Regions from separate parts of the Homo sapiens genome. Here all the other regions are linked to region 3. Evidence: fine-mapped expression QTL. A gene starts in region 3. Each other region holds a variant in brackets. All regions are shown on one strand. Distances are from middle to middle. Region 1 overlaps PAX7 (paired box 7). Region 2 overlaps PAX7 (paired box 7). Region 3 holds the start of PAX7 (paired box 7).

What was found. PIP is the estimated chance that this variant, and not a neighbour inherited with it, causes the effect.
Region 1: its variant is fine-mapped to the expression of PAX7 in prefrontal cortex (CommonMind, PIP 0.95).
Region 2: its variant is fine-mapped to the expression of PAX7 in prefrontal cortex (BrainSeq, PIP 0.95).

Annotation. Positions count from the first base shown.
Region 1 is chr1:18,698,143-18,700,895 of GRCh38, reverse strand. It overlaps PAX7 (paired box 7), which reads right to left. Exons shown (of 9, transcript NM_001135254.2): 6 at 78-243. Among named protein-coding and RNA genes, the nearest start is that of PAX7, 69 kb to the right of the region's middle. The variant T/AT (reference allele first, on the strand shown) is at 1,332.
Region 2 is chr1:18,701,864-18,704,616 of GRCh38, reverse strand. It overlaps PAX7 (paired box 7), which reads right to left. Exons shown (of 9, transcript NM_001135254.2): 7 at 1,321-1,523. Among named protein-coding and RNA genes, the nearest start is that of PAX7, 72 kb to the right of the region's middle. The variant C/T (reference allele first, on the strand shown) is at 1,625.
Region 3 is chr1:18,629,349-18,632,101 of GRCh38, reverse strand. PAX7 (paired box 7) reads right to left here and starts at 1,256. Exons shown (of 9, transcript NM_001135254.2): 1 at 414-1,256. The coding sequence starts at 498. RefSeq lists promoters at 473-749, 473-1,383, 787-1,572.

The sequences.
Region 1 (2,753 bases), 69 kb before region 3:
AGAGCCTTTGTAAGTGAAAGTAAAGAAAGAAGGGAAGGGGCACCACTGAGATGGCAGGACGGGGCCAAGACACTCACCTTGGGAGATGGTGGTGGTGGGGTAGGTGGAGTCCGGCAGCTGGTAGGGGGGCAGCGTGGGCATGCCGGTGGGTGGGAAGCCTCCTGGCAGAAGGTGGTTGAACGCCGCCAGCTGGTTGGCTCCTGCCTGCTTACGCCAACGGGCGCGGCGGTTACTGAACCAGACCTGGGAGGTGGAGAGCAGAGAATGGAGACCCCTCGGCCAGGTTCCTGGCAGAGAGCTGCAACACATGTAGACCCAGTTGCCCAAGCCATCACCCTCTGATCCAGCCAGCATCCTCCTGCAGGCCCCGGCATTGTGCAGCACAGGACGCTTTGCAGAGTGATTTCATAGGTATGACCCCATTCTGCCCTCACAACCACCAGTGAGGGGGTTCTATATTATCCCCATTTTACAGATGAGGAAACCAAGACCCAAAGAAAGTGGGTGACTTGTCCATGGGCCAGGTTGAGTCAGTGGTCCAGCCAGTCCTGTGTGGCTCTCAGGCCAGTGCTCTTTCCTCTGCAGCTGCTCCTTCCTGGAGGGATGCTGGTGCCCTGCTTGACCACCTCCTCCAGGAAGCCCCCCAGGAGGAAGCCACGCATCTGCAACCCACCTGAATGAGACCTGCACTTCAGACCCAGATGTGCAAGCCGGGTTCTTTCTCTGGAGACTGAGGCCCTACTTTGCTTACACACCCTGGGCCTCCTTGAAATAGGAAACACACACACACACACACACACACACACACACACACACACGGATTTATCAAACATTAGTGGGATAATAACCCAACATTTTTGTCTCCCCTTCCTGTGCTGGCACTTCACGTATCAATCCATACATAGACCCATGAGACGTATTCTCCTATTCCCATTTTACAGAAGGGGAAACCAAGGCTCACAGAGGTCAAGTTGCTTGCCCAAGTCCACACAGCTAGTCTGTGTTGGAGCTGAGGTTCAAACTTAAAATCAGTCTGGCCGGGCGCAGCGGCTCACACCTGTAATCCCAGCACTTTGGGAGGCCGAGGCGGGCGGATCACGAGGTCAGGAGATTGAGACCATCCTGGCTAATAAGGTGAAACCCTGTCTCTACTAAAAATACAAAAAAATTAGCCGGGCATGGTGGTGGGCGCCTGTAGTCCCAGCTAGTCGGGAGGCTGAGGCAGGAGAATGGCGTGAACCCGGGAGGCAGAGCTTGCAGTGAGCTGAGATCACGCCACTGCACTCCAGCCTGGGCGACAAGCGAGACTCTGCCTCAAAAAAAAAAAAAAA[T/AT]CAGTCTGGCTTTCTAGAGCCCACTTATCTGGATTTGCAAGTTTCCTGGGACAGGTCAGAGAAAGAGGAGAATGAGGGTGCACACTGGGGCTGCCTTGAGGGGGCTCTTTTCCACCTTCAGCTTTGCACATGCTGTTCCCTCTCCCCTGAACACTCTTCCTGCAGCTGGCTCTTTGGCCTTCAGAGCTCAGCTGAAATGCTTCCTCCTACTCCTACTCCTTAATTGCCGCATCTAAGGTGGGTTCAGGTAGGTTCTCTGCCTTCTGTCAGGTGGGCCTCCTACCTGTGTGCTTCCCCACAGGATCAATGATTCTATATATCTGTTTCTTGGCTGTGCTGCTCCTAATGTCCCCCTCAGACTCAGGCTCCACGGGACAGAGGCCATGCATTCCTTGCCCAATGCCTGGAGCTCAGTAAGTGTTCAAGGAATACTTGTTGAATGAATGAAGGAGTGAATGACGAATGAATGAATGAACAAGGGGAGGCAGGATTGGCACTGGGGTGCCTTTGCTGGGGCTGGGGCTACAAGGCTTGGTTGGTGTTCCATCCTGATGGGGGGTGAAGGCCGCCACCTCCCCTGGCACCTGATCACCCAAGACCCCCAAATCTCTGGGCCGTGTCTGCTGAGATGGGGGAGGGGAATGCAGCCAGGTGGAGGGCGCTTATGCACCCCTAGAGCCATCCTTCCCGGGTGGGAAAAGCAGCGTTCAGCTTGCAGGCTGGATAAACAAGAGCTGCCGGCTTTCACCTGTTGAGGTTTCACAGAGAAAGGGAGAGGAGGCAGCCAAGCCTGGAGGAAAAACGACTGGCTCCCGATGGATTCAAAGCCCTGGCTTCTCCCCACTTCCACAGGGCGCCGAGGGTTTCCCCGGGGCACCCTGGAGTGGCAGGGATGCTGGAGGGAGCCCTGCAAGGAATGGCCTTGCCTCCGAGCTTCCAGGCTCTGCGGGAAGGGTGTGAGGAGGTCTTTGTACTAATTCAGTGTTTCCCAAACAGTGGGCCTCCTGCCACTGCTCCCTGTTGGAGAAACAGAATTCAATAACCTGGACATGAGGATGGGAAAGTTATTCCATTCCACTTCTCTCCCAGGCCTCCTGGGCATGGAGAAGGGGGGAAGAGGGGTCTCAGTTTGGTGCTAATGCATCCTCAGTGCCTTTCTAACCTGTGCCAATCTCCCTTCTGAATGCAGGGAGAGGAGGCGTTTGCAGGTGACATTTTCCTGAAAGGCTTTAATCATGTTGTTTTGTTTTCCTTTGTGTGTAGTGTGTGTGTGTGTGTGTGTGTGTGTGTGTATTTTAACAATTGCCTTCCCTTTATGGGAGTGTTGTGCATTTTTATTTTAAAACACTTGATTTCGTTGAAAAGTAAATAACAATATAGATAATAGGTGAAGGTGGCGAACATCTTGGGTGGGTGGGAGAG
Region 2 (2,753 bases), 73 kb before region 3:
ATGGAGTCTCACTCTGTCACCCAGGCTGGAGTGCAATGGTGCAATCTTGGCTCACTGCAACCTCTGTCTCCCAGGTTCAAGCGATTCTCTCGCCTCAGCCTCCCAAGTAGCTGAAATTACAGGCACCTGCCATCATGCCTGGCTAATTTTTGTATTGCTGTAGAGACAAAGTTTCACCGTACTGGCCAGGCTGGTCTCGAACTCTTGACCTCAGGTGATCCACCCGCCTCGGCCTCCCAAAGTGCTGGGATTACAGGTGTGAGCCACCACGCTCGGCCTTATATGATCTCTTTTAAAACTACTCAATTCTGCTGTGGTGGCAAAAAAGCCACCATACATAAATGGACATGGCTGTATTCCAATAAAACTTTATTTACAAAAAACAGGGAGCTGGACAGATGTGGCCCGCAGGATGTAGCTTGCTGGCCTTCTTTGAATTCTTTCTATTCTCCTTTTAGGTAATGGGTTTCCCATATTAATTACATTGTCCTGACACTGGGAGGGCCAGAGAACTAATATTTACTTGGCACTGATTTCGTGCCAGGCTCTGGGCTAGGTGCTCTGACCTGTTAGCATATTGAATGTGGCAAGCACCTCTTGTTGAGACGTTAGTTACAGACTCTCTTTGTTTAATAGGGGATAAACTGAGGCTCACAGATGCTGACTTGCCTCAGAGACCCCTGAGCAGTAGAGCTGGGATTTAGACCCATTCCACAGGCTTCACTGTTCTGCCACACTATGGCTCTTCAGATCAGTTTGGATCATGTGCAGTGGATTCTCACCACAGACATGTGGCAGGGGGCACTTCATCCCTTCCCCCACGGATATTTGGGAGCCTGCTGAAGCTACAAAAAAATGAGCCCATCAGTTCCTCAAGTTCATTGGGACTTCCGGCATTATCAAGTCCTGTTCCCCAAACTCACCAATAACCACCATCAGCGCCCACATTATCTCTCTGACTTCATCCAAAGCAGGTCCTGTGACTTCTAACAGCACCCCGAGGCAATGAATGACTTAACCAATCACACAGGAGCAAACAGAATTCCATTGACCAATCAGGGTAGAGTTACCGGCCCAGAACCCCATCCACAATTCTCTCCACCAATAGGACATGGTCCTGCCTTTCAGGAATTGGTCACTCCTGGTGAAAAGCCAAGAGCACAGGACAGAGTCCAGGGAGGATTCCTGATTCTAGAACAAAAACCCCAACCGCAGTCAGCCTGCTACAGGAAAGAGCGCAAGGCTTCCACCCACGTGCTGTCTGCAGATGTCTGACTTTCGTGGCGGTGGGATCCTGGGTGCTGGGCTGAGACCACCTACCTGAGGAGACAGGCCGTTGCTGACCGGGTTCATGTGGTTGGAGGGCGCCGCCGGATTCATGAAGCTGTCAGAGTAGCTGGAGAAGCTGTGGCGGGCTCCGTAGGCAGAGCTGGTGTCGGCGGCTGCAGCCGCTGCAGCCAGCCCGCCCTGGTGCATGGTGGACGGTGGCAGGGGCTGAGGCCGGTGCACAGTGCTGCCCCCATCTGTAGAGAGACCCAAGAGAGGTCCTAAGCAAGTGGCCTCATCCTGGACGCTGGGCCTCTGAGAGCAGAAGGCAAGCCAAGAGACTCCTCCTCCCGGTCTC[C/T]ATTCCTTGGAGGGAAGGGACCACCCTCTCATGCTACCTGGGATGAGACAAGTTGGCTCCTGGGCAGGGCAGTAGGCACTGGCCAGGTCTTGACTGACAACCCAACATTCTAGACAACCCCTAGACAGGTGCACACCAGCCACTGTTCCTCAGTGCTTGGCACACAGTAGGTGCTCAATAAATGTCAGCTGGGCTGAAAACCAGACCTTGATGGGGACTCTGTTAATCTACCCAGTCTGTTTTGTTTTGTGAGCGTCAACCACTTGCCAGGTGCTTTTACAAACGCTGCCTAAGGGTATGAAGCAAGACTGTAAATCCCATTTTACAGATGAAGAAACCAAGGCTTGGTGGGCTTGGGGCACTCACACAAGATGACCAGGCTAGTGAGTGATGGGACCAGGATTTGAATGGCCTAACTCTGGAGCCATCTCTGTTCTTTGCTGCTAGGCTGTTATTCTGCGCTCTCTGGGCCCTTCTGTGCAGCTTTGCAGAGGCTGGGACCCTCAACACTGGTTCAATTTATCTTACCAAGTCACAGTGGTGCTGGAGGGGGCTCTTTGACTCTTTCCTTGGCCTCCAGAACTCCAGCCTGCCAGTCATTTAAGAGGAGGCTTTATGAGGTAGCTATCTTTTTTAAAATTTAATTTTTTTTTTGAGATGGAGTCTCACTCTGTCGCCCAGGCTGGAGTGCAGTGGCGCGATCTGGGCTCCGTGCAACCTCCGCCTCCCGGGTTCAAGCGATTCCCCTGCCTCAGCCTCCTGAGTAGCTGGGATTACAGATGCACGCCACCATGCCCAGATAATTTTTTTTTTTTGTATTTTTAGTAGAGATGGAGTTTCACATGTTGGCCAGGCTGGTCTCCAACTCCTGGCCTCAAGAGATCCGCCCGCCTCAGCCTCCCAAAGTGCTGGGATTGCAGTTGTGAGCCACTGCGCCCAGCCCATGAGGCCAATATCAAGTAGTGGTATTCCTGGTGTGTGCTGGGACAGGGCTTCTGGGGTGACAGAATGAGAGCAAGTTCCGGTGAGGTAGGGGGAGGGAACCCTTCTTCCCCTACAAGGCTCACCTTCTCTCCTGAGACCCAGACTTTCCTTTCCTCTCCCAAGGCCCCCTGATCCCCTATCCTCT
Region 3 (2,753 bases):
CGGGGGTGGAAAAAATAATTCAAAACAAGAGTAGAAAGCTGGCAGCCAGCGAGCCAGGAGAGCCGAGAAACTGTCAGGGAAGAAGTGTCTGGAAATAGTGGAAAGAGCTGAAATTCACCAGGACCTGATATTTACTAGGAGTCCAAATCTACCAGAATTTCAGCCCTGCGGGTAAAGACCGGCAGCTAGCGACCTGCGAAACGAAGGCCGCCGGGCAGTGAAACCCACGCAGAAGCGGACAAGTATGGGTCCCAGAAACTCCCTGGGTTCCGCGCCCGGACTGGGACCCAGAAGAGAACGGGATCCCTCTGCTATCGCCGGCGCCGCCACCGTCCCCTGGAGACCGCAGCCTCTCCAAGGACCCCGAGTTCCGGGCGGCGGAGTCGCGGCGAGGCCAGCCTGGGCGTTCTTACCTTCCAAAGGGAATCCCGTGCGGGGGTAGTTCTGCCCCGGAGCCGGCCGCATCATTCTCGGTACCGTGCCGGGAAGGGCCGCCATTCTTGCGCACGCCGGGGACGAATCCAAAGTCGGCAAAAATCGCTTCCCGTCCGCTCCCTTCACCCCTGCTGCGATCTCTTTCTTTCCGTCTTCTTCGTCTTCTTTTTTTTAACCTCTTCTCCCTCCCCTCCACACACACTCCCTACCCCCACCCCCCACCCCTGGCTGCAGTCAAACGCGTCCAGAAGCTGGGGAGGGGGGTGAGGTGGGGTGGAGGTTGGGGGGAGGGAAGGTGGCGACGACGAGGAAGTTCAAACAAACAAACACTCCAACCCCAAGTCCGCCTCTGCCGGCTGGCCTCGGCCAGAAGTTGTGCGGGCTGATGCGCCTGGCAGAACCCGGAGACCAGGCCCCGCGGCGGAGGGGGGCCGGGGGAACGCGGCCGGAATCGAGGCCGCCAGCCTCAGAGTGGCGAGCGCCGCGCTCTCGCGCTCTGGCGCTCTGGCGCTCGGGGCCAAAGTTTCCGAGCCCGGAGACTGCGGAGTGGATTTCGTTCTCGTATTTATTTATATATTTATTCTCTCGCTCTCGCTCCCTCCCTCTTCTCCACGCCTTCTTTCTCCGGACCACACTCGCTTCTCCCTCCACACCAGCTTTCACAGCCCCGTCCCCTAGGAGACCCGGGGACAGACGGAAGAAGGAGCCTCCTCGGGTTTCAGGGCTGGACGGAGGAGACAGGGGGTGACGGGGTTGGGGAAAGAGAAATGGAAAAGCGAGGGGGCGCGAGTGATCAGCTGGGTAAGTTGTGCAAAAGTGTTCACCGAAGTACGAGGAGGAGGAGGAGGAGGAGGAGGAGGAGGCAGTGAGCGCGATCTGATAGGTTCGGACTTTTCTTTTATTCATGAGGAGGGAAGGGGGCCAGGGCGCAAGGGAGCGGAGGACCAATAACGAAAAGAAATCGCCAACGAATATTTTTTTCCCTCTTTTCTAATCCCCGGCTCGACCTCGTTTTGGGGGAGAATTTGAACCGCCGTGAAAAGAGAGGGAGCCGATCCCGGCGAGTTGGGGGCTGGGGGAGAAGGGGAGGGGGCCAACTTTGTCCCAGTGCCTTCCTTTGATGAATGGGCCGGATCCGCCGAGTCCCCGGCCCCCAGGTCGCCCACGGCTGCTCTCGGAGTCCCGGCTGTATGGGAATGTCTGCCTCGGGTCCGGCGCCTCTCTGGAGTCTCGCCTTTTCTCTGGCCTCCGAGGGCCAGAGTCCGCCCTATTTCTCATCTTCTCCCTCGTCTTACACCCTCTGAAATTCCTCCAGTGAGGCTCCCCGGGAACCGGCCTAGGGTGACTTGAAGGGAGGAATTCTGACCTTTTCTGTGTAATGTCAGAGCCCCGGTGTCCGGTTCTTACTCTACCTTCCTGCCGCTCTGAGAAGCCCCCAGTAACCGTATCTGGTTCCGAGGCTTGGCAAAGTGGGTCTGCCAAGTGCTAGGCACAGGTTTCTTCCTCCCCTTCCAGTTCCGCCCCGTGCAGACGTCTCCAGCCGCCGCCGTCCTCCTCAGGCCCCCAGGCCGGGCCTATAACTCCTTTCCAGCAGGTAGTTGGGTTTACAGGGAGTTGGTGCTGGTGTGAGGATCTGGGGGCCCAAAGAGGTGGGAAATGGGAGGGAGGGAGCCCGTCAAGACTTGATACAGCTCTGAACTCACCAACTCTGAGCTCCTTGCTGGTGGGTTTGAGGGGACGCCCCAACTGAATGATCAGGAGTCAGGGTGGGGTGATCAGAGGTTCCTGAATTCTTCGCTTTCTGAAGCCAGGGTGACCAGTAGCCTCAACCTCGGGACACCGAGTCCTGGGGGCGAAACGCCCTCCCAGCGGGGCAGGACGCCACAACTGCAGGCCTTTTGTCTCCCGGGGGAAAGAGCGTCTCTGGCCCCACGCTGGAGGCAAAATACAATAAAATGAACCCAGCCCTCAATCTCACCCCCTGCCCGCCCTCTCTCGGCAGTGGGGTCAGCCTTGTCTTAGCCTGGGGCGCTCACCGCTGGCTGGCCCCAGGGTGTCCCCATCCCTCCCCTTCGCCTCACCTGTGACCTTTGCCCCTTGCAGCATGTGACAGATCTCCCTCCTCTCCCCACTCTCCTAGCACAAGGGGCTCATCAGATTTTGGGGGGGCCTTCTGGGAATGGGGGCCCTGATGAAAAACTTGTTGAGCTCATACTCTCTCTAACTGAGAAGACAGATGCCAAGTAGCTTTCGAATTGGAAGGGGGACACCGGGGTACTTTGCCTGGCCCAAGTTATGGGGCCCTCCCCCGGGAGAGA